7 linked regions of the Homo sapiens genome follow. The protein of the gene in region 2 interacts with the protein of the main gene of each other region in a biochemical or structural test. Each region holds a gene or a part of one and is shown on either strand. Other genes may lie near its edges. The genes, in order: AKIRIN2, UBR5, NRL, TOPBP1, ERG, ATF3 and PAIP1.

Region 1 (3,500 bases), on a different chromosome or scaffold from region 2:
ATAAACGAATGCAGAAGAGAAGACATTTAGAAACGAGTTTCCAACAGACAGATCCGTGTTGTACTTCTGATGCACAGCCACATGCATTTCTCCTCAGTGGACCAGCTTCACCAGGTAATAACATTTCTTGTCATTTACAAAGTTTATTATTTAGAGTGGGAAAAGTCTAATCCAAGTTGTCTTTAGTCATTTAAGCTACTGTATCTCCTCTGAGTTTTAAAAAAACATTTATACAAGTAATGCATGACATCTTAAAAAATAATATGGTACAAAATAAGGAGTTACCACTGGATTCCCACTAACCAGAGACAACCACCTGCATATAATATCCCCAAAGTGGACATCCTGTAAGTACTATGATTTGTAGCCTTTATTAAAAAAAATTAACAATAGGCCAGGCACGGTGGCTCATGCCTGTAATCCCAGCACTTGGGGAGGCCGAGCGAGGTAGACAGGTCACTTGAGGTCAGGAGTTTGAGACCAGCCTGGCCAACATGGCAAAACTCTGTCTCTACTGAAAATAGAAAAATTAGCTGGGCGTGGTGGCACGCGCCTGTAGTCCCAGCCCCTCGGGAGCCTGAGGCATGAGAATCACTTGAACCCAGGAGGCGGAGGTTGCAGTGAGCTGAGATCATGCCACTGCACTCCAGCTTGGGCGACAGAGTGAGACTTTGTCTCAAAAAAAAAAATAATAACAATACTGTATGCTCCTTTGTTAGGTATAGATGTACCTTGTCATGACTGAACACTTAATGATAGATAATTCAACTTAGAAGTTTTGCTGGTATAGTATTTTAAGAACTATCCCTGTATACATACCCTGCCTCACACACTTGTCTTATTGGGCTAGATTTCTAAAGGTGGATTATTATTATTTTTTGATCCTGTATCTGTTTTTACCTACTTTTTGTTGGGGGGAATGTTTGCAAATAACCTTCCTTTTTTTTAAAAAAAAAAAAAAGGGGGGGGGCGGGGAATAAGGGCTACTTGAAGCAAAGAGAAAGTTGAAGGTTTTGCTGAGAGAGAGCCATCAATAGTGGCTCTTATCTTTAGTAAAGTTCTCAGGAAAATAGCTTTTCTTGTGACAACAGTTGCCTTTGTTCAACGCTTTCTCTCCTCCCCCTAGCAAGGGAAGGAAAACCTGGCAGAATAAAAAAATTTGCGGCTGGGCGCGGTGGCTCATGCCTGTAATCCCAGCACTTTGGGAGGCCAAGGCAGGTTTATCACGAGGTCAGGATATCGAGAACATCCTGGCTAACACAGTGAAACCCCGTCTCTACTAAAATCCAAAAAATTAGCTAGGCATGGTGGCAGGCGCCTGTAGTCTCAGCTACTGAGGTAGGAGAATGGCATGAACCCGGGAGGCAGAGCTTGCAGTGAGCAGAGATCGCGCCATTGCACTCCAACCTGGGTGACAGAATGAGACTCAAAAAAAAAAAAAAAAAAAAAATCAAAGACCATAACATAGTCAAATAAAATTAGATTAGGAAACATGAACTTGTTCAAAACTAAATACTGCCATGCCCATTGTGGGGGCCAGGTATTAGTGGTTGAAACATAGAGGTGAGGGTTGGGCACTAGACTGTATTAGCAGGAAACCAAGATCATTATTTCCTTACTCACTTTACTTAGAAGATCAGTTAACTGGCAGTCTTAAGTAACAAAGCTGGGAATGTGAAAGTAAATTAAGATGGCTTTGGATAATTATGGAATAAAGCTGGTGGGCTTTGTTATTGTGGTATGCACAGTTCTAATAAGCATAGTTAACTAGCTCCTGCCATGCAGGTTATAAGGAGCAAGTTAAGAGAGTAAGTAATATTGGTGGTACCAGGGCAAATTCACAGAGCGAGATGAAGAAACAATTGGTAACGAATGGTGCACTTGAATATGTATAAAATACTTTTAGCAGTATTACAGTAGATGTTATTACTACAAAATATTTTCTCTTTTATTAAAAATATCCTAATAGGTATAAAAATGCTGAAGGAATATTTGAAATTGACAGATGCTGATGTTGCAGCTGCTTTGGGATTCTTAGTGTGATGACAGTGTAGTTCTATGGTATAGAGTTTTGAGCATAGCATTATCAGCTCAATGCTTGAGCTTATTTTTCCATGCGAATTGTTGTTAACTTAATGGGAATTAGTGGTCAATGAGTTCAAAAACCTTTAGAATCATTTATGCTTCTCCAGCAAAGTAGATTTCAGAATGTCTTGTTTTGTTTTGTTTTGTTTTTGAGACAGGGTCTCACTCCGTTGCCCAGGCTGGAGTACAGTGGTGAGATCTTGGCTCACTGCAACCTCCACCTCAGCCTAGCCTGTAGCTAGAACTACAGGCACGTGCCACCACTCCCAGCCAATCTTTGTATTTTTATTAGAGACATGGTTTGCCATGTTGCGCAGGCTGGCCTTTAGCTCAAGGGTTCCACCTGCTTCGGCCTCCCAGAAAGTACTGGGATTACAGGTATGAGCCACCACACAAGCTAGGTTCCAGAATGTTTTTTAATCTTTTCTAAAAAGGATTCATGCTGTACCTTCTTTTTTTAAACATAAAAATTTATTGTGCCAACATGAAATTTCTTTTTTTTTTTTTTTTTCTGAGATGAAGTTTCACTCTTGTTGCCTAGGCTGGAGTGCAACGGCATGATCTCGGCTCACTGCAACCTCCGCCTCCTGTGTTCAAGCGATTCTCCTGCCTCAGCCTCCTAAGTAGCTGGGATTACAGGCATGTGCCACCACGCCTGGCTAATTTTGTATTTTTAGTAGAGACTAAGTTTCTCCATGTTGGTCAGGCTGGTCTTGAACTTCTGACCTCAGGTGATCCGCCTGCCTCGGCCTCCCAAAGTGCTGGTAATACAGGCGTGAGCCACCATGCCCGGCGTATTTTCTTTTTCAATAAAGGAAAACCCCTTTCTAAAGGTGTGAAATGATGGTAGAATAATTACCAGTTCATTGTGTGTAGGCTCTTAAGATATTAATGGTATGGCTTTGAAGACTAAGTGTCTTTTTACAGGCATAATGATTTGTTATTCTGGGACTAAATAAAATTAAATTTAGACCTGAGGTGTTCTTCATTCCTAGTGTAGGAAAGTAATTTAGTCACTAAAATACTTCATGGTATGGTATTTTCCAGAAAGGAGATAAGATGTTTTGTAATGGGACCCATCATTGTAATGTTTAAGTTTTATGTCTTTTTTAAATTTAATTTTTAATTTTTTGTTTTTATTTTTTTGAGATGGAGTTTCACTCTCTTTGCCCAGGCTGGAGTGCAATGGCGTGATCTCGGCTCACTGAAACCTCCGCCTCCCGGGTTCAAGTGATTCTCCTGCCTCAGCCTCCCGAGTAGCTGGGATTACAGGTGCCCGCCACCATGCCTGGCTAATTTTTTTATGTATTTTTAGTAGAGGCAGGGTTTCACCATGTTGGCCAGGCTGGTTTCAAACTCCTGACCTCAGGTGATCCGCCCACCTCGGCCTGATTACAGGCGGTGAGCACCACGCC
Region 2 (3,500 bases):
TACTTAAGCAAATTCATTTAAACATTTTAGTTAGGCCAGACTGTACTTTTCCAATACAATAAATCTAGTATTGGTTTTTTATTGTTTGTTTTTGGTTTTGTTTTTGTTTTTGAGATGGAGTCTCGCTCTGTCACCCAAGCTGGAGTGCAGTGGCGCAATCTTGGCTCACTGCAACCTCCACCTCCCAGGTTCAAGCAATTCTCCTGCCTCAGCCTCTTGAGTAGCTGCAACTACAGGCATGCACCACCATGCCCAGCTAATTTTTGTATTTTTAGTAGAGATGGGGTTTCACCATGTTGGCCAGGCTGGTCTCAAACTTCTGACCTCAGATGATCCGCCCACCTCAGCCTCCCAAAGTGCTGGGATTACAGGCATGAGCCACCGCACCTGGCATAATGCATTTAGTATTGCTTTTAGGTAACAATCTCAATAATCAAATGGTGAGATTTTTCACTGATTTGGTAATATGATGCTCCATCCCACACAACCTAATGTCTGGGGGGTTTTTTTATTGATTTTTTTGTTTTTTTGTTTTTTGGTGCACCACAATAAAATTTCAAGCAGCTTTCAACTATTATAACCTCTACTCACCACAACCTTTGTTATGCTTCATATAATCCCTGGCATATTTTCTGGCTCCTACTGAGTGAAGATATGCCTGAGTCTTTAAAACCTCAAAGTTCTTAATAAACATAATGAGCACTCACTGAATGCCAAGACTTGTGCAAAAACACACTTTCTATGCCAACACTATCCAAGAGAACTTTCAGTGATGATGGCACTGCTCTGTATTTGCACTGTCCAATGTGGTAGTGAGTAGCTACGTGGCACTACAGTGCACTTAAAATGTGACTAGCTACAGATGAAGTGACTTAAATTTTTATTTAATTTTAATCAATCTTAATTAATTTTTTTTTCCTTTTTTTTGAGACAGAGTCTTGCTCTGTCGCCCAGGCTGGAGTGCAGTGGCGCGATCTTGGCTCACTGCAACCTCTGCCTCACGGGCTCAAGCTCTGTCTCACAGGCACAAGCAATTCTCCTGCCTCAACCTCTTGAGTAGCTGGGATTACAGGCGTCCACCACCACACCCAGCTAATTTTTGTATTTTTAGTAGAGATGGGGTTTCACCATGTTGGCCAGGCTAAGGGGTCTCGAACTCCTGACCTCAAGTGATTCGCCCGCCTCAGCCACCCAAAGTGCTGGGATTACAGGCATGAGCCACTGGCCGGGCCTTAATCTTAATTTAAACAGTCATGTTTTAAAAATTAAGAATATATATTGCGGCCAGGTACATTGGCTCATGCCTGTAATCCCAGCATTTTGGTAGGCTGAGGCAGATGGATCACCTGAGGTTAGGTTCAAGAGCAGCCTAGCCAACATGACGAAACCCCATCTCTACTAAAAATACAAAAATTAGCCAGACATAGTGGTATGCGTCTGTAACTTGGGAGGCTGAGGAAGGAGAATCGCTTGAACCCAGGAGGTGGACGTTGCATTGAGCCGAGATCCGGCCACTGCCTCCAGCCTAGGAGACAAAGCAAAACTGTGTCTCAAAAAAGAAAAAAAAAAAGAACGTATATTGCTTGAAATATTCTTCATAAAAGTCATTTTCACTTATTTTTACAACCAAATGCATTGAAGATCATCTAGGATGGGCTTCCTTAACCTTAGCACAACTGACATTTTGGACCCCGTAATTCTTTGTTGTGGGGGCTATCCTATGCATTATAGGATGTTTAGCAGCATCTCTGGCCTCCATCCACTAGAGGCCAGTAGCAATGCCCCAGCTGTGACAATAAAAAATGTCTCCAGACACTGCCCAATAAGGGGAGGGGGTTGTGTGTGGAGGGTGCAAAATCACACCAAGCTGAGAAGTACTAATCTAGAACTAAGAGTCGATTCTGCTCTGAATGCTAAGGATATTCTAGGGCAACTCTTTTGAGTTCCTGCTTTGCTATCTGGAAACCAGGCAACACGTAAAAAGTTAAAAGTAACCATCTCTTCGTAATGTTTTCCGTAGAATCCACATTATAATATTGATCTTTTCCCATCTACTGTCTCAACTGTTCCTCCCTGACCTTGAGGAGAGTGCTACACCTAATTCAGAGATTGATGTGGGGGGTTCTAAGAGGTTAAATGACTAGGCTACCAGCGCAGAGTTTGAAACTCCTGTCTATAGTATCTTACCTTGTGTTATGACACCTGAAAGGGAAACTCTAAGCTTAGAGAAAAATCCTTTTGATATGACAATCTCAATAAAGACTGTTTATGACTGCACAATACGTTGTAATGCCAAAAGGCAAATCTCACAGGAAAATTCCACATACAGACAAGCAATAAGAACTGGTTTGTTTCGTAACTAACCTGCATCTTGAGGAATAATTCAGGACAAGGACAATAAATGCCATAACCACATCACCTTAAGAAGACCTATCCTAACCTAGTACCAAGAAAAGGTTAAGAGCGTCAGCCTCTGAAAAAAAGGCATAAACCCATTAGGAGCCCTGGAAAGAGCAGTTGAGGGGAAAACGGAATCAAAACACTAAGACAGGTGGCCACACTGCCTGAAGGCTGGGATGTCTGAGACAGCAGAACCATTCTGGAATACAAGCCACGTGAAGTGGAATGGAGCCCTGGACTTTAAAGAAAAGTCAGAAGACCCATCAGGTGGACCTCAGCTGTCTCTCAGTAGTTGTATCCCTGCATAAACACTGTAAATCTCTGTGCCTATTTTTTCAGCTCATTAGTGAGGCACTTTCCAGGCTATTAGTGAGGCAGGCCTTTCAGCTCTCCCCTCAAGCTCGACGAACCACATTCTTTATATTGTTTTACTGTTTCTCTGAGACAATGTTTTAAGCAGGAACGTAGTACTAACTCAAGAAATCCATTGGAAAGGAGATCAAAATGTCCAAAGTATCTGAGCACTGAATGGTTTCAATTCAGCTCAATGAATATTTGCTTGAGGGCCCAGCATTCTGTGCCAGGCACCTTGTAATCATTCTGGGAAGTCACAGCCAACATCCTCTTCTTTCCACCCCAGCCATCCCCACCTGTATTTGTCAATTTCATCCTGGCATCATTATTATTCATTATTGGCAAGTCTGAAAACACAAATTATGAAAAAAAGATACTTTTTTATGCTTTGTACATTTTAGACACTTGAGACATCAGACTATGATGCTGAACAAAATATTTGACTTTTTAAGAGGATGTGGGTAAAGAAAGAAAACGTATTTGAAGAAAACACTACTGTTTTGAGGACCAAGTTTTCTTCAGCTGAGCAATTTATTTGCAGTACCATTCTGCCTGTCTAATCTTACTACTTTTATTCCAAAGTATAAAGTCTATTTACACCCTTTTCATACATAACTATGATTATCATTTTATTTGTGACTCTCATACATTTCTCATAATAAAAAAAGTCAAGCTACAGTAGCAGTAGCTTTTTTATTGCCCCAACTTACTAAAACTTGGTAAAGTTTTTATCTTTAGATGAAAAT
Region 3 (3,500 bases), on a different chromosome or scaffold from region 2:
CCAGCAGTGCTAGAGGAATTAAAAACACGCACACAGAAATATAGAGGTGTGGAGTGGGAAATCAGGGGTCTCACAGCCTTCAGAGCTGACAGCCTCGAACAGAGATTTACCCACGTGTTTATTGACAGCAAGTCAGTGATAAGCATTGTTTTTATAGATTAACTAAAAGTATTCCTTACGGGAAACAAAGGGATGGGCCAAAATGAAGAGATGGGCTCTGGCTGGTTATCTGCAGCAGGAGCATGTCCTTAAGGCACAGATCGCTCATGCTATTGTTTATGGTTTAAGAATACCTTTAAGCGGTTTTCTGCCCAGGGTGGGCCATGTGTTCCTTGCCCTCATTCCGGTGAACCCACAACCTTCCAGTGTGGGTGTCATGGCCATCACAAACATGTCACAGTGCTGCAGAGATTTTGCTTATGGCCAGTTTTGGGGCCAGTTTATGGCCAGATTTTGGGGGCCTATTCCCAACAAGGCAGTGTTCTAAGCACATACCTAACAACCCTTTGGGGGAATTACCATTTTACAGATGAAGTAACAAAGGCACAGAGAGGTCAAGTAATTTGTCCAAAGCTTCACAGTTAGTAAACAATAGAGCTAAGGGTTAAAGTGATAAAACTGCAAAGACATGTCTTTCATAGTAGTATAGACATCTACAACTGCAAGGACCTTAGAAGTCACCTATTCCACCGGGCGCAGTGGCTCATGCCTATAATCCCAGCACTTTGGGAGGCCAAGGAGGGCGGATCACCTGAGGTTGGGAGTTCAAGACCAGCGTGGCCAACACGGTGAAACCCCTTCTCTACAAAAATACAAAAATTAGCTGGGCATGATGGCAGGTGCCTGTAATCCCAGCTATTTAGGACAATCACTTGAACTCAGGAGGCAGAGGTTGCAGTAAGCCTAGATCATGCCATTGCACTCCAGCCTGGGGGACAGAGCAAGACTCTGTCTCAAAAAAATAAAAAAATAAAAAGTCACCTATTCCGTGTTTCTCAAACTTAAAAGTGCCTTTGAATCACCTGGAGATCTTGTTAAAATGCAGATTGTCACTCAGCAAGTCTGTAGTAGCCTCAAGATTTTGTTTTCCTTACAAGCTCCTGGGTAATGCTGATGCTGCCGGTCTGCGAACTACAGTTTAGAGTAGCCTAAATTCATCTGAAATAAACTTTGGAGAGTAATCAGGAAAACAGTGCAATGATCTCACATGAGTCAGGGGCATCAGCTTAGGATAACTTCTGTGCAATCTGGATCAGGCTGAGAGAATGTATAACCTAAGGTGGGTAGTGTGGTAGTCTTTACCCAGAAAAAGGGAACAAACTTCAACAAATAAAATGGAATTATTGGGAACTCCCTCAAAGGAAAAAACTAGAAGAGGAAACACCAAGTGTTCTCATAGGAAATGCCAGTGACCAGCCAGAATGTGTAAAAATCTAAAGGTCAGAGTGGAACAGAGGTTAGAACAAAGTTAGCAGTGGAGTATATTGTACTTTAAAACACAGCCAGCCAGGCGCGGTGGCTCACACTTTGGGAGGCCGAGGTGGGCAGATCACCTGAGGTCAGCAGTTTGAGACCAGCTAGACCAACATGGTGAAACCCCATCTCTACTAAAAATACAAAAATTAGCCAGGCATGGTGGCCCATGCCTGTAATTCCAGCTACTCAGGAAGCTGAGGCGGGAGAATCACTTGAAACTGGGAGGCTGAGGTTGCAGTGAGCTGAGATCACACCACTGCACTCCAGCCTAGGCGACAGAGTGAGACTCTGTCTCAAAAAAAAAATAAATAAATAAATAAATTTAAAAATTTAAAAATAATAATAAAACACAGCCAAATCCTTAGCTTCATAAATAGCATATGATAACTGAATACCGTCAAAAGCAACATAGCACAGGTATTAAACACATAGTAGACTTGAGCCAGAGGTGCCTCTCAGTTGCTTCATCTGTAAAATGGAAATGCCTACACTTTACAGTCTTGTTGGGAAGATTAAAAGAGTCAGTGGAATAAAGCACTCAGAACTATGCCTGGCACCGAATAACCATTTAATACATGTTAGCTATCATCACCTTTCCACTTTATAATGATTAGAGTAGGCCCTGTAAGCGTATATTACATATTGCTGACTCTACAGTTTAAAAGGAACATGAGCAATGTAAATAAAATCTAGGAGAGAAAGAAAATAGATTTAAAAATAAATCCCTCCAGCTAAGAGGCAGGGAACTGGGGTTCCAGGCACCTTTCTGGTATCTTCTAAATGCACAGGGACAAGAAAGTGTTAGCCTTAAAAATTATTTTTATTAATTAGAATAAAATGGGGCTGCATGCCCTTCAGCTCCAGATAACTGATAAAATATAGTTAACACATTATAATCTTTTTATTTTAAAATAAAACACAGATACAGAAGACCATCTAAAACAAAGTTATGGCTGAATAAACTATCATAAAGTGAACACCTTTGGAACACTACCCAGGGAAAGAAACAGAACTTTGCAGACACCAACCCAGCCCCGCCCCGCCCCGACCCTGTTGCCCATCTCTATCATAGCCACCCCTTCCTGCCATAGTGGATACTATGGTGAGTAATAATTACTTCTTTGCATTTTTTTATAGTTTGATCACCTAAATGTAGATCCTTAGACACTATAGTTTAGCTTTGCTCCCATTTAAAATTTTTTTCATATGTCTTTCAAGTCTCTATCAGTCTACAGATTCCCCCTCCATTCCTTTCTTTTCCTTCAATTTACCCATTGACGAATCCAGACTCAGATGTTCAGTGTCTAAATGCATTAACTCACTAGGGATTGCAAAACAGCCATATTTGAGTTGTCATAACATTGCAATAATTTTATAAAATGGACACTTCTATTTCATTACCCTATGGTATTGTTTATATAGAAACAGCAGGATAACTGCTTAATTCTTTATCTTTATTTATCATCTTCAAAAAAATGATTTGATTTCCTATTATCCTTTGAAAAGGTAACCAGTTAGTTACACACAAACATTATGAACTCATGGATTTAAACATACTTAGTGTTTATTAAATTGACCTTATTAAATGTTCAAATTGTCCCACATTTGGCTATGGAAGCTAGGCCAAAAAGAGCTGAGTCCTTTTGACATGATACATACTCCTTGCTTCCCGGCTATCTGGTATAAGTTGCTCCATGCTCATTGTGTTCATTTCCTTCCCCAAACCTGGAATCAGCTTTTTCTCTAAGAAGCTCTGGCTTCTTTCAGGGGGAAATGGCGTTTTAAGACCACAATCTGGATGCTAGGAGTGTTCATTGATACTGGATTGGTCATTGTTTCTAGATCTTTTTGGTGGATAGCGACAGAAGATAAAACCTCATGAACTCATACTGACATGTTCTATTCAAAATCAGGGCTAAAGGGTTTTCTGGAAACATGGTCTTGCTTTGTTGCCCAGGCTGTAATGCAGTAGCGTGATCACAGCTCACTGCAGCCTTGAATTCCTGGGCTCAAATGATCCTCTT
Region 4 (3,500 bases), on a different chromosome or scaffold from region 2:
TGGGCAACATAGTGAGACCTTGTCTCTACAAAAAAATTTTAAAAATTAGCCAGGTGTAGTGGCACATGCCTGTAGTTCTAACTGCTCGGGAGACTGAGGGGTGGCTGATGCCCAGGAGTTCAAGGTTACAGGAAGTTATGATTGTGCCACTGCATCCCAGCCTGGGCAACAGAGTGAGACCCTAACTCAAAAAAATTAAAAAAAAAAAATCCAATAAGTTGTTCAGAAACTAAGTGCTCTCGAAATATAGCAGATGAAAAGATTAATGTAGTTAGGAGGGTTCAGAGAAGAGTTAAAACCTGAAATGAACTTTTAAAAGATAACAGAGGAAGATACCTTGCAGGCAGAGGGACTCTCGCAGCCAAAGGATGGACATGGTCTAGTAAGTGCATCTACTTAGCTAGAGTGGAGGGTTTACATAGATAGTAAGGAGCAAGCCCAACTCTGAAGGGTCTTCAAAGTCAGGCTAGGAAATGCTAATGTATATCATCTACTGCATGTATTATATAATAAAGACGTACCCGACAACCATCTAATAAATCTTCAGGTGCTTGAAATGCACTGACATCCAGATTTTCTAGATTTTCAAGTGTAGGCTCCAGTTTGCTGTTAAGTGAATTACATATTGATTCACTTACGCAACTTGCATTTATGTTGGAAATATTGCTGACATCTGAAAGAGTACGACCTACATATTTTGAAAACGTATAAATTTATGGGAGATAAAATAATCATGATTACATATTGTCTATGGATTAACTTTTCTTACAAATATAGGGCAATAAACAACTTCCAAAGTAAGATTCAGGGGTGTTTACTGAAATCTTAGTGGCAAAGTATAAAAAGGGAAAATGAAATTAATTAAGCCTCCTATCTTATTTAAATGAAAATAGATTTAACACATTTTCTTAATAGTGTCTTGTTTCCCATAAAAATCTGAAGTTGCTGACTTTAAGGTCCAAGAAGCTTACATTTGAAAAAATATTTTAAACATTTTGCCAACACGACACCTACAAAATAGAAATGGTTTTAATTTTTATACAAATACAGATGATCTATAACTGCAGCAAAACTGTAAATTAAGGAAAGATTAATATATGCATGTAATGTTTAAAAGATTAATACTTTTATCTTAAGCCCCCAGCTACCATTGTTCTTAATTTCTTTGATCATCTTTTGCATTACAACAGAGTATAAAAGACAGCATTCATTCATTCTAAAAGAAAATTACGAACAGTTCAGTGCTAACTTTTTATACAATTTGACTATTATACAATTATGCCTAGAAGCACAGCAAACAAGAAAAAGAAATTCCCTATCTCAGTGATCCTATTAACATACTGATTATTACATAGAAATATGACTGTCTTCAGAATAATTATTTTAATCTCAATGAGACTCACTATCAATTGTGTTGATCTGGCTGGTAGGAGTTGAAGAATTGGGCATAGTCTTTGCTTCTGGTCTAGGTTCTGTCTTGTATATGGATTCATCCTGACAAAAACCTTTCTCAATACTGTCAAAAAACCACTGTGTGGTCACACAGTGTACATTCCATCTCTTGGCACACTCATACTTCTGACCTGTGGCGTTCATTAAGAAAGAAATAGAGAAAATAGGAGAAACCAAGAAATGAAAACCATTACAATCTATCTTTGCAGAAATATTCAAATTATAACAGGTTAATATTTTTTTTTTTTTTTTGAGATGGAGTCTCACTCTGTTGCCCAGGCTGGAGTACAGTGGTGAGATCTTGGCTCACTGCAACCTCCACCTCCCTCCTGATCAAGCGATTCTCCTGCCTCAGCCTCCTGAATAGCTAGGATTACAGACGTGTGCCACCATGTCTGGCTAATTTTTTTGTATTTTTAGTAGACACGGGGTTTCACCATGTTGGCTAGGCTGGTCTCAAACTCCTGACCTCAGGTGATTCGCCTGCCTTGGCCTCCCAAAATGCTGGGATTACAAGCGTGAGCAACCGCGCCCGGCTATAACAGGTTATTTCAAAAACCTATCAACAAAATTAAAGTTACCAGTACTTACTCTTAAACAGTATGCTACACAGTTTATTACAAAGTAGTATTTTAGCTTATTGCCTAATTATATTTTCTATGTGTAGTATAAATACATATGCCATGTGAGAGGTTTTATCTTTTATACAAACTGCAGGAAGACAGAAGCAACTGTGGGGTAACTTAATTAATATTGGACTTGGGTTTGCATATAGGCTCCATCACTTAATTTCTTTAAACCAGCTTGTACAATGTGAAAATTGTAAATTTGTGCTATATAATAAATCCCAACTTTGAACAGACTATTCCAATGTCAACAGGCTTCTACTTAAAGTCCAGGATAGATAAGCCAAAAGATAAATTATATTGAAAATATGTATCTTTTATTACCTTAAAAATCTTCAACACAATGTATTTTGAAGCAGTATCACAGAGGAATTGAGGTCAATATGTCACATGAAAGGTTTTTTGGCATTCTTGAGAGAATCAACAATGAACTGTCTTCAGATTCAGAAAAAGAACAGCAGTATCAACTCTACTCACAGTGATCCTATCACAATCAGCCATACTCAAAGTTCTGACTTAAGGACAATTACCATTTAATCGTAATTTCTTCTCAATCTAGATAGCTTAGTAAAACACAGTATACATATAAAGGGCAATAATAAAAACATTAACAAAACTCATCTTTTATCAATTTGTGTATATTTTAAGAGTGCTGATAAAAAATTATCCAGAATAATGTTATGTAACACCAAACTTAATAGCAATTTTAAAGAATTTTTCTTGTTCGTAATGTCTTTTTCATTTTTTACTGCCTCATGTGCCGCAAGGTGTGTCTTCCAGTTAAAACTTTGCAAGATGTTAGAGAAAACATCTTTGCAAGATGTTAGAGAAAACAGTATCAAACTAGATTAATGACATGTCAGAAGTAAAAGCTGTTCTGTAAAGATTTTAAAATATTAAATATTAGTGGCTGGGCACGGTGGCTCATGCCTGTAATCCCAGGACTTTGGGAGGTTGAGGTGGGAAGATCAATTGAGGTCAGTTAGAGACCAGTCTGGCCAACATGGTGAAAGCCCGTCTCTACTAAAAATAAAAAGTTATTCAGGCGTGGTGGCAGGTGCCTGTAATCCCGCTACTCGGGAAGCTGAGTTGGGAGAATCGCTTGATCAAGGGAGGCAGAGGTTGCAGTGAGCTGAGATTGTGCCACTGCCCTCCAGCCTGGGCAATAGAGCAAGACTCTGTCTCAAAATAAATAAATAAATAAATAAAAATAAAATATTAAATACTAGAGAAAATGTTTCATTTGTCCCTTTGTGAAACACAGTTTTACCTTTTGGTTCTTGCACAATGAGGTGTGTACATTCATTCATTTTCAATTGTCCCATGTATTGACCTCCATGCTTAACTGTGAGTTGCTGAACTTCTTTCCTGTCTAAGCCACATAAGCCAGTCACACAGATTATGCAACCAAGAAAAATAGGA
Region 5 (3,500 bases), on a different chromosome or scaffold from region 2:
TCCCCCGGGCCCTGCTCTCCCTGTCCCATAGGTAGCACTGGAGTGTGACGACGTGGCCTGCATCCTGTGGGGTGTTTGTGCTCGCCATGGCCAGCTGTGGAATGCAAAAACCACTCACCAACCCCACTCCTGCAGGTGCTGGTTAATTGCAAAACCAAACACCCTGCAGGAAAAGTCTGGAACTGACAGCTCTCTATGAGGAACGCTGGCTCATAGGAGGGGCTAGAGTCTTGGTGTATCTATATTTCATTTCCGATTCTGTGGTCAGTATTTTTCAGTATTTTGCATAAATACTGTTATTATTATTTTTGTTGTTGTTGTGATCTGTAATTAGCACCTTCCTGATATGTGTGGCTTACTCTTATTTCCATATAAATATATATAAATATACCAGTAGTTTTCTAAGGAAAAGAAGTTTCCTCTTATTCTTACTCATTTTAAAATAAATAAATAAAATTGAACATAAATGAGAAAAAAGAATTTTTAAAATCTTATGCCTACAGGAAACTTTAGATTGAGCAAAAACAAGGGCATGTGATGTGAATAATCCCAAGATTCCAGAACTATTCACTTTAAAGACAATGATCTATGGATGTGAGGCAGCTTTTGTCTTTCCCCCAAAATGTTCTCCTGGGTAGCCAGGGAGGCTGGCTGGAGGCTGTGCTTGTGGAAGGCAGCTGGTCAGAAATCCCACGTGGATGGGGATCTACCCCAAGATGAAGATCCCTGGCTTCAGGAATTGACTGAATGTGTTCCCACCCCTTTCAGATCCTACGCTATGGAGTACAGACCATGTGCGGCAGTGGCTGGAGTGGGCGGTGAAAGAATATGGCCTTCCAGACGTCAACATCTTGTTATTCCAGAACATCGATGGGAAGGAACTGTGCAAGATGACCAAGGACGACTTCCAGAGGCTCACCCCCAGCTACAACGCCGACATCCTTCTCTCACATCTCCACTACCTCAGAGAGAGTAAGCTCCCCCTTCCTCCAAGGATAGATGGCTGTGGCTATGGTTCTTATGACCTGAGCTTCAGAGGGTTCAACCAGGTGTGTCGACAGCATCCTCCTGCCCTCGCCCAGTTCCCACTGGGGATCCGAGGGAGCCACATGCTTGGTATGTGATGACTTAGGGGAGCAACACCCTGGCCACATCACCTGATGAGAAGTAGTCAGCGCTCTCAGGAGAAGCCAAAATTCACTTCAACACTCAGCTGCCTCCTCCAGGGTCCTGCGACCAAGAAGATGGAATGTCAAAGGGGAAAGGAAGCGTTAACTGGTCACACATTAGTTAAGTCTCCATGATACCCCGAATCGAAATAGAATCATTAAGGCTTCTCTTTCGTAGGAATTAGGGGGATTATTCTCCCTAAAGCTACATGAAGCCCCACTTTATATTCTAACCTGAGCACAGAACAAGGGAAGTTTTCACTTTGTATCATGTGATTCGGCTTAACCTGACAGAAAGGGATGGCATGTTGGCATGAATCCAGAATGTTTGCTGCATGCTTTAATTTCTACAACGTCCAGCATGGTGAGAAGGAAGTAGTGTGACAGACAGTGAGGTGGATAAATTCTCCTCCATTGCTTTGCCTGGCATCCCAACCACTTCTTCCCTGAATTAAAGACGGGCCCCCATGTAGGTTTTAACATGCTAACAAGTAGCAGGTTGCTGGAAATAGTTATAAGCTTCCCATGATGTTAGTGTGGGAGTGGGGGAACGGTTTTCTTTCTTTCTTTTTCTTTCTTTTTTTTTTTTTTTTTTTGTAAGAAAGGTAATTCTCTTTCTCTCTCTCTCTTTTTTTTTTCATTTTGATGTCGCTTTTTGTTTTGTTTTGTAGCTCCTCTTCCACATTTGACTTCAGATGATGTTGATAAAGCCTTACAAAACTCTCCACGGTTAATGCATGCTAGAAACACAGGTAATGCTGGCCCCGCCCCTGCCTCCCAGCAAGAGCGTAGGGTCTTACGTACAGGTTGCATGCTTTCATGGGAAACCAGTCAGCGCGTGCCAGGAAGACAGAACGCAGGTAGATGATTCAGAATACTTTCGGATACTTAGGAATGTACCACAGCCTAAAGGAAGGTGAAGCCCTTTGGTTTTCTGAGCGCTTCCCAAGCACCCCACTTTGATTATCAAAGGGTTCCTTTTTAACCAGGAGACGTGCAGAATTTGCCTTTAGCCATAACTTAGCTCACATTTGCCGGATTACAGTCTTCTTCTGTTGGTCCCAATATATTCGCTGTGCTGACTCTGTAGACACTAAAAGCATGTTCGATATAAAAGGGCCCTTAGCAACCTCCTTTAATTTTTTCCATTTTTATTCTTAAAGAAATATTTGCTAGGATAAGTTGGAATTTTCTTTTTCCTTTCCAATAAACTTTTAGGCTATTTGATTTGTTTTCCTACAGACTTTGTATGTTTGCAAAAGGCAGGAGGGAATTTCTGTAACATTTTGAGAGCTTTTGTTCAGAGGGAACCTCTGCTATAATTTTGGAGAATATGAAATTAGTCACTAACCAAATGCCTGTTTTCTATCTCTAACCGTTGCCTCTACATTTGACTTAGTTATGTATTTATTTTGCCTGAGCCTAAGTAGGGTTTAACACCGTGCCTCATCCTGGCTAACCTTCCTCCCTCGCCCCCCGCTCACAGCAGAGGCTGGGTTTTCTGTGGATGAATGTGTTCCTGGTTCACATCCATCTGCTCCTTCCTGATGGAGAGAGTTCCGGAAGCATGGCCACCGGCTGCTCACCCCACTCTGTTAGCTGCAGGGACCCTCCACAATCACTCGGGCTAGGGAGGGAGACGGGAAGTGCCAGAAAGCCTTGCAAGTCAGCCAGTTAACTCACGATCAGCCCTCACATAGAAATACGCAATTTTCCCAATATTTACCATTTTATTTTAAAATATAAAATGTGAGTGAGTCCCGGTTTGAGTATTACAATGAAATTGCTCATTTATCATGGTCTTCTATATTCAACACATTGTCTTTTTAATCTGAAGTTTTAAAAAACCTGCTTCGAGTTGGTAGTACACTTTTTCAATAATTTTGGTTGCACACATCAGCCTATTAGTGACCTTGTGGCCAGAAATAACAGATAACTTAGAGGAAGTTACTTCCCCTTCTTAGGAAACACCTTTGAGCTATGCACATTTTCTGATAATTTCACATTTATTTATGAGTTCTTTAACCATTGAGTGAAAGTTTCAAAAAAGCTCCAAATATATTAAATTTTGCTATTGTTAAACACGGAAGAAACCAATGAACAAGACAACAAATTCCAAATGGACTGAACTATGAAAAGGGAATTTTCTCAGCTAACAGCATGAGTTTTGGTCAAAAGAGAGAGAGGGAAAATGCATTTGAATAGAGATGTGGATTAATTATTAATAAAATCCATATACTCTTAGGCTAAATACTTATAATTGCTTGATACTACTTTCCAAAAGCTCTGTAAAATATATTATGGGTTTTTATACAAGTTGAAAAATAAAAC
Region 6 (2,515 bases), on a different chromosome or scaffold from region 2:
GGTTCTTTCTTCCTCCGGTACCCCTTCCCATTCTTTTCTGATATGTATTTGCAACAATGAGACACACGTTTAGACATGAAACAGATGTAACTCAAGTGAGTAACTCTCTGAGACGAGTTCTGTGGCAGAATGTTAGGGGTCAAAGGTTCAAGCTGAACAACAGGTGTATGTTTTAGGTGTTTGTACATTCAGAGAAAATAATTAAGGTATCTAGCAATTCAGTTGTACATCAAAATTCTAAACACCAAACTGTTGATCTAAAGGATATATTTGGTGCCATGTTTCAGGGTTTGTCAATGAAAAATTGAGCATCAGGTGCCCAAGACTGAGGAACAGGACTGAAAGCCAACTATCCCATCTAGTGATGCCCCAAAGAGCAAAGGATGACATCTGGAGAAGTTTAAAGCTAGGCACCCCCCATAATGGGGAGGGAAAGGCAGGGAATCGCTAGGTCTCAGCAACCGACAGATTTAAATGAACAGAAACCAGCACAACACATGTTTACCATGTCTTGGTTCCAATATTTATTATTCTGACAGGTTAGGAATACTAGGATAAATAAGTAATATTTTCTCTTACAGAAAATTGTAATGATACCATTGAGTACAATTAAACACTCTGAGAATTTCACAGAAACATCAGAATTTTAATAGACAGTAGCCAGCGTCCTTGTGGCCAGTGTGAGTGACTTCTCACAGCTGCAAACACCCTGGGCCAGATTTCTTAAAACAGCTACATGACAAAAACAATGCTATTGACATCCAATAATGCTAAAGCCTGGGTACCACCCAGGCTCCACTGACTGTGGTTTCCAAACATCTCTCCACTGACTGTGGTTTTCAACCACAAGGAAAGGAAAATGGAATATTCTTTGGCTCTTCCAGCCTAGACACAACTCCTGACCTAAGACATTGAGTGGAGAGTCCTAACCCTTTGGAAGTTGAACTTTCTGCTTTCTTCCTGTGACTTTGGAACTGAGTTTGCAACAGAGGACCTGCCATCATACTGCCCATGGATTTTGTGTTAACGCTGGGAGAATTCTGTCCTCCTCTTGCTGACAAGCTCTTCTGGCCACCTGAATATCTTGAGATACTGCACGTGGTGACAGCCCCGCCCCCCAAAACTCTTAGAAACCAGATCTGAGAAAAAGCATATAAAAGTCACATCAGTGTTGTGTGACACAAACATCGGAAGAGTACATTGCCTAGTTTTCTTGCACACACAATTTCTGGACATAACAGCATATTTGCTAGAAAGCACAACCCTGGCCGTTGCACAACTTCACTAAATGCTGTTCTCACTCCACATCCCCTACGAGTGACAATGGTAGCCACGGTGAAGGAGATGGCCCCATCCCTCCCACCCGAGGTACAGACACTGCTGCCTGAATCCTAACGGTGGGCATCCTGGTTTTTTGTAGAATCCAGATGAAAGGCGGGCAGGACACCAGCTGGGGGCCATCTGGAACATAAGAATGGCCAGTGTGTTAAGGCCTAAATCCTGGAGTTGAGGCAAAGATGCACTTGCCCTGGTCCAAGACCCACTCTGGGGCAGAATGGGAAGGGCCTGCTGAATCACTGCAGGCCCTCCCGCCTTGATGGTTCTCTGCTGCTGGGATTCTAGAGGTACACAGGAAGACAGCTCTCCAATGGCTTCAGGGTTTTGGGTATAAAATGAGGATTCAATGAGGACTCCCCAGTCGCCCCCATACCACGACTGCTTAGCTCTGCAATGTTCCTTCTTTTATCTGTTGGATAAAGAGGTTTCTCTCATCTTCTGGAGTCCTCCCATTCTGAGCCCGGACAATACACGTGGGCCGATGAAGGTTGAGCATGTATATCAAATGCTGCTTCTCGTTCTTGAGCTCCTCAATCTGAGCCTTCAGTTCAGCATTCACACTTTCCAGCTTCTCCGACTCCTGGGGGACAAGCAACAGAGGCATCAAGAAAGGAGCCAAGGGCCAGTGAGGAGGGGGTGGCCTGGGCTGCTGCCTGGATGCAGGGGTGTACCTGGGACACACCGGGGCTCATCAAGCTGCGAGAGGAAGATGGGAGATGGGAGAGCAGCACTGGGTTTAGGAAAATGCAGACCCTCTTCTTCAGAGAAACCCTGGTGATGCCACAGAGGCGGCCTGTGGCTCTGCTAATACTGAAGCTGCAGTTCAGATACCTCATTTGCATGAGTCAACAGCCCATATGCAGGTCTTCTGGACCCAAAAGGGCCTTGGGAGCTGGGGAGAAATCCAGACTTATGGTGGCTTAGTCGATTCTGAGTCACAGATCTCAATGAGAAGCTCATCTCCCCAGAAAAAATGTATATAGCAACACACAAAATTCCCTAATTTTCACTGATCCCCTGAAGCAATCAACAGAACTTTTGGGGATCTGTGGGACTTGGGCTAAGACTCTGTCATGGCCTGTCCACATTTGGAGGAGGGACACAGCCACTGGAAAGACTGCTGAGCACCACCGGCCACCCTGCTTGCCCACAAAAGCTATTTCCCCTAGTGTCTCTC
Region 7 (3,500 bases), on a different chromosome or scaffold from region 2:
GATGCAGGCAAAGCCCTTATGGTGTCTATCACATATCATATATGCAGCTGGTGGCTATTAGCTTATTAACTGGAGTACCATCCTAGGTGCCAAGAAATACAGCTTTTTATCATTCATTTTGGATGCTTTTTATACTTTAGTCCCTTTATGTATGAATACATGGCTGTTGCATTTGGAATATGACTCAGTATTCTCCTAGAAATTTAAAATGTAATTCATTTGTTGAACATTCTGTGCTTTACTATGTGCTCTTCACCAATCTAGGTGAATTTGATTAATTCACTTAATCCTCAGAGTCACAGTGATAATATTTATGATTAGTAAATAAATGCATCAACATTAATACCTCCTATTATAGTAGAATGTTTAACTTGAATTCAAATGCGTGACAAAAATCTAATGTATTAGAGTTTATCCTTCTATTCAATGAACACTATATGTGAATGAAAAAGGCACATGAATCTGCTATTTCTGCAGCTGGTTTTACTTCCTGACTGCCTCTCATAGTACATGCAACTTTTGCTAAGTATCACTTCAGTCTCTGAAGATACATAGGCCGGGCATGGTGGCTCTCGCCTGTAATCCCAGCGCTTTGGGAGGCCGAGTTGGGTGGATCATTTGAGGTCAGGAGTTTGAGACCATCCTGATCAACATGGTGAAACCCCATCTCCTCTAAAAATACAAAAAAAATTAGCTGGGCCTGGTGGTACATGCCTGTAGTCCCAGCTACTCTGGGAGGCTGAGGCAGGAGAATTGCTTGAACCTGGGAGGCAGAGGTTGCAGTGAGCCAAGATCTTGCCACTGTACTCCAGCCTGGGTGACAGAGCGAGACTCCATCTCAAAAATAAAAATAAAAAATAAAGATAAAATAAAAAGTGTAAAACATGACCTCCAAATGATGGTTATTTGAAGTGGTAGCACTATAGTGGTCCATTTTCATGCTGCTGACAAAGACATACCCGAGACTGGGAAGAAAAAGAGATTTAATTGGACTTACAGTTCCACAAGGCTGGGAAAGCCTCAGAATCATGGCGGGAGGTGAAAGGCACATCTTACGTGGCCGCAGCAAGAGAAAAATGAGGAAGAAGCAAAAGCGGAAACCCCTGATAAACCCATCAGATCTCGTGAGACGTATTCACTATGACAAGAATAGCACCGGAAAGACTGGCCCCATTGATTCAGTTACCTCCCTCCTGGGTCCCTCCCACAACACATGGGAATTCTGGGAGATACAATTCAAGTTGAGATTTAGGTGGGGACACAGCCAAACCATATCAAGCACCAACAGTAAAGGGACAAGTGGACAATTGGCAATGTTGGTCTTTCTCCTAAGACTGTGTCCTGGGCCAGGCGCAGTGGCCTGTAATCCCAGCACTTTGGGAGGCCAAGGTGGGGGAATCACCTGAAGTCAGAGTTTGAGACCAGCCTGGCCAACATGGTGAAACCCTGTCTCTACTAAAAATACAAAAATTAGCCAGGCATGGTGGTGCATGCCTGTAATCCCAGCTACTTGAGAGGCTGAGGTACAGGAATAGCTTGAACCCGGGAGGCGGAGGTTGCAGTGAGCCAAGATTGCACCACTGCACTCCAGCCTGGGCGACAGAACAAGACTGTCTCAAAGAAAAAAAAAGACTGTCTTTCTCCAACATGGAGCATTTCTAAGGGTGTTTTGACCATGTATGACTTTTTTTTTCTTCTATGCACTCACTGACTTTAGAACTTAACCCCTTCACAAAATGCTTCTGTTTTGTAGTCATAACTTTTTTATGTGGCTTTTCATTTACTCTGTTTGGAGAAGGTTAAATTTCATACAAGCAGTGTAGTTATTATTAGATTTTAACTGTTTGGTAAACTTTAAAGCGCTTCGGGTGGTATTCCAGGCATTGAGATGTGAAAGTTGTTGCTCAAGTCTATTATCTTTTGTAAAACTCGCCCACTCAGCCTTCTGCCATTAATGAAAAGGTTGGAAACTGCCAAAGGTGACAGTGGTGGAAACAACATTAGCTGGAAACTACTGCTGCTATCAAGGTTGTGTTAGCAACCTGGATGTAGCAGCCAAAAGGTCTCCTTCCATTTATACCGTGATGAAATTTTAGTTACTCGAGCAGCTTTATGCATTTCTTTGCCCTTGGGGATTAACAGATGATAAACCTTATTAGGTTTTTGTTTTTGTTTTTTTTTTCCCCAATAAAAAAGTTGTCAACATTTGCAGAAATACAGAGAATGGTATAATGAATCCTCATGGCCTCAACAGTAAGCTACATGTGGCCGTTCTTGTTTTTATATCCCTAGTCCATACTTCCCCTCCCACTTTGAAGCAAATCCTAGATCTTATTTCATTCGTAAGTGGATCAGATTCTTAATTTTTATATTGGCATTGTAGTGAAATATTGGTTTAAACTTTATTCCTCAGCCATCTTAGAAGTTGACCCAGAATGAGAAGACAATTCCCTGTTTAGCTGAACAGAACCTTTCTGCTGTTAATTATAACACTTCAGCTTTTAGGCAAGGAAGAAAAATAGCTCAATTGACAATTTTATTGATGAACATAAATTTTTATCATGTGAGGGATCTTTAAAAAAGCATTTGTGCTAGAGACATACCACCTTGTGTGTTTTAGCCAGTTGCATAGATTAAAATTGTTTTTTCATTTTTGATCCGTAGGAATCCTATGAGGATGGTTGTGAGGATTATCCTACTCTATCAGAATATGTTCAGGATTTTTTGAATCATCTTACAGAGCAGCCTGGCAGTTTTGAAACTGAAATTGAACAGTTTGCAGAGACCCTGAATGGTTGTGTTACAACAGATGATGCTTTGCAAGAACTTGTGGAACTCATCTATCAACAGGTATGTTGGCTTATAGCATGCAGTGACCTTCAGATAGCTTCCTTGAAGCCCAAGGATAGTGGCTACTCCTTGAGGGAGACCAGATTCATGATCACCTGCCTCCACACTTACTCTTTATAGTTTCCGGGAGTTCTAAGTCTGTCTTGTATAAAACTCCTATAGTTAGGGATCCAAGGGTAGAGCCAGACAGGATTGCAAGTTCACATGTGTAGTCAAGATTCAATATAGGTAATATTCACCTGTTTAGCCAAAGCTCTATACAAGCAGTATAGTATAGAAGGTGATATGGGCACTGAAAACGAAGGCTACATAAGTGTCACCCCCACCAAAACCCTGCCCCTTGTTTTGCAGGCTCTGAAATTAGCAGTACCAGAAAAGACTGCAATTCTTTTCCCCTATGTGTTGAATTGAATAGTAGTATTAGAGTAGGGGAGGAAAAAAATTGAGAGAATTTGCTTGCCTCATAAGTAGGTCTTTAAAAAAAAGAAAGCCAAACCATAAAATGTCTTGTCTTAGCATTTCTACTTGCCTTTGCTTTCTTTTAAAATTTAAGGATTTCATCTTAATTCCTTGAAAGTCTAATTTAGTCAGTTGAAATTGTTTCATTATACAACATTTAGTTTTTATCCCAGCATATTGGTCATTAACAT

What was found.
Region 1: of the proteins of UBR5 (region 2) and AKIRIN2, one has a biochemical effect on the other in vitro, tested with the Homo sapiens proteins (one study listed by BioGRID).
Region 3: of the proteins of UBR5 (region 2) and NRL, one has a biochemical effect on the other in vitro, tested with the Homo sapiens proteins (one study listed by BioGRID).
Region 4: of the proteins of UBR5 (region 2) and TOPBP1, one has a biochemical effect on the other in vitro, tested with the Homo sapiens proteins (one study listed by BioGRID).
Region 5: the proteins of UBR5 (region 2) and ERG form a complex in vitro, tested with the Homo sapiens proteins (one large-scale study listed by BioGRID).
Region 6: of the proteins of UBR5 (region 2) and ATF3, one has a biochemical effect on the other in vitro, tested with the Homo sapiens proteins (one study listed by BioGRID).
Region 7: the proteins of UBR5 (region 2) and PAIP1 form a complex in vitro, tested with the Homo sapiens proteins (one study listed by BioGRID).

Annotation. Positions count from the first base shown.
Region 1 is NC_000006.12:87,678,234-87,681,733, reverse strand, and holds part of AKIRIN2 (akirin-2), read left to right. Parts: coding exon 1-114; intron 115-3,500. UniProt on the Homo sapiens protein: Molecular adapter that acts as a bridge between a variety of multiprotein complexes, and which is involved in embryonic development, immunity, myogenesis and brain development.
Region 2 is NC_000008.11:102,406,201-102,409,700, forward strand, and holds part of UBR5 (E3 ubiquitin-protein ligase UBR5), read right to left. Parts: intron 1-3,500. UniProt on the Homo sapiens protein: E3 ubiquitin-protein ligase involved in different protein quality control pathways in the cytoplasm and nucleus. Mainly acts as a ubiquitin chain elongator that extends pre-ubiquitinated substrates.
Region 3 is NC_000014.9:24,104,950-24,108,449, forward strand, and holds part of NRL (neural retina-specific leucine zipper protein), read right to left. Parts: intron 1-3,500. UniProt on the Homo sapiens protein: Acts as a transcriptional activator which regulates the expression of several rod-specific genes, including RHO and PDE6B. Also functions as a transcriptional coactivator, stimulating transcription mediated by the transcription factor CRX and NR2E3.
Region 4 is NC_000003.12:133,651,942-133,655,441, forward strand, and holds part of TOPBP1 (DNA topoisomerase 2-binding protein 1), read right to left. Parts: coding exon 3,349-3,500; intron 1,584-3,348; coding exon 1,404-1,583; intron 689-1,403; coding exon 522-688; intron 1-521. UniProt on the Homo sapiens protein: Scaffold protein that acts as a key protein-protein adapter in DNA replication and DNA repair. Composed of multiple BRCT domains, which specifically recognize and bind phosphorylated proteins, bringing proteins together into functional combinations.
Region 5 is NC_000021.9:38,400,978-38,404,477, reverse strand, and holds part of ERG (transcriptional regulator ERG), read left to right. Parts: intron 1-768; coding exon 769-972; intron 973-1,840; coding exon 1,841-1,921; intron 1,922-3,500. UniProt on the Homo sapiens protein: Transcriptional regulator. May participate in transcriptional regulation through the recruitment of SETDB1 histone methyltransferase and subsequent modification of local chromatin structure.
Region 6 is NC_000001.11:212,618,761-212,621,275, reverse strand, and holds the end of ATF3 (cyclic AMP-dependent transcription factor ATF-3), read right to left. Parts: intron 2,305-2,515; exon of another isoform or gene 2,231-2,304; coding exon of another isoform or gene 2,010-2,230; exon of another isoform or gene 1,919-2,009; coding exon 1,721-1,918; 3' UTR 501-1,720; downstream 1-500.
Region 7 is NC_000005.10:43,547,078-43,550,577, reverse strand, and holds part of PAIP1 (polyadenylate-binding protein-interacting protein 1), read left to right. Parts: intron 1-2,664; coding exon 2,665-2,850; intron 2,851-3,500. UniProt on the Homo sapiens protein: Acts as a coactivator in the regulation of translation initiation of poly(A)-containing mRNAs. Its stimulatory activity on translation is mediated via its action on PABPC1. Competes with PAIP2 for binding to PABPC1.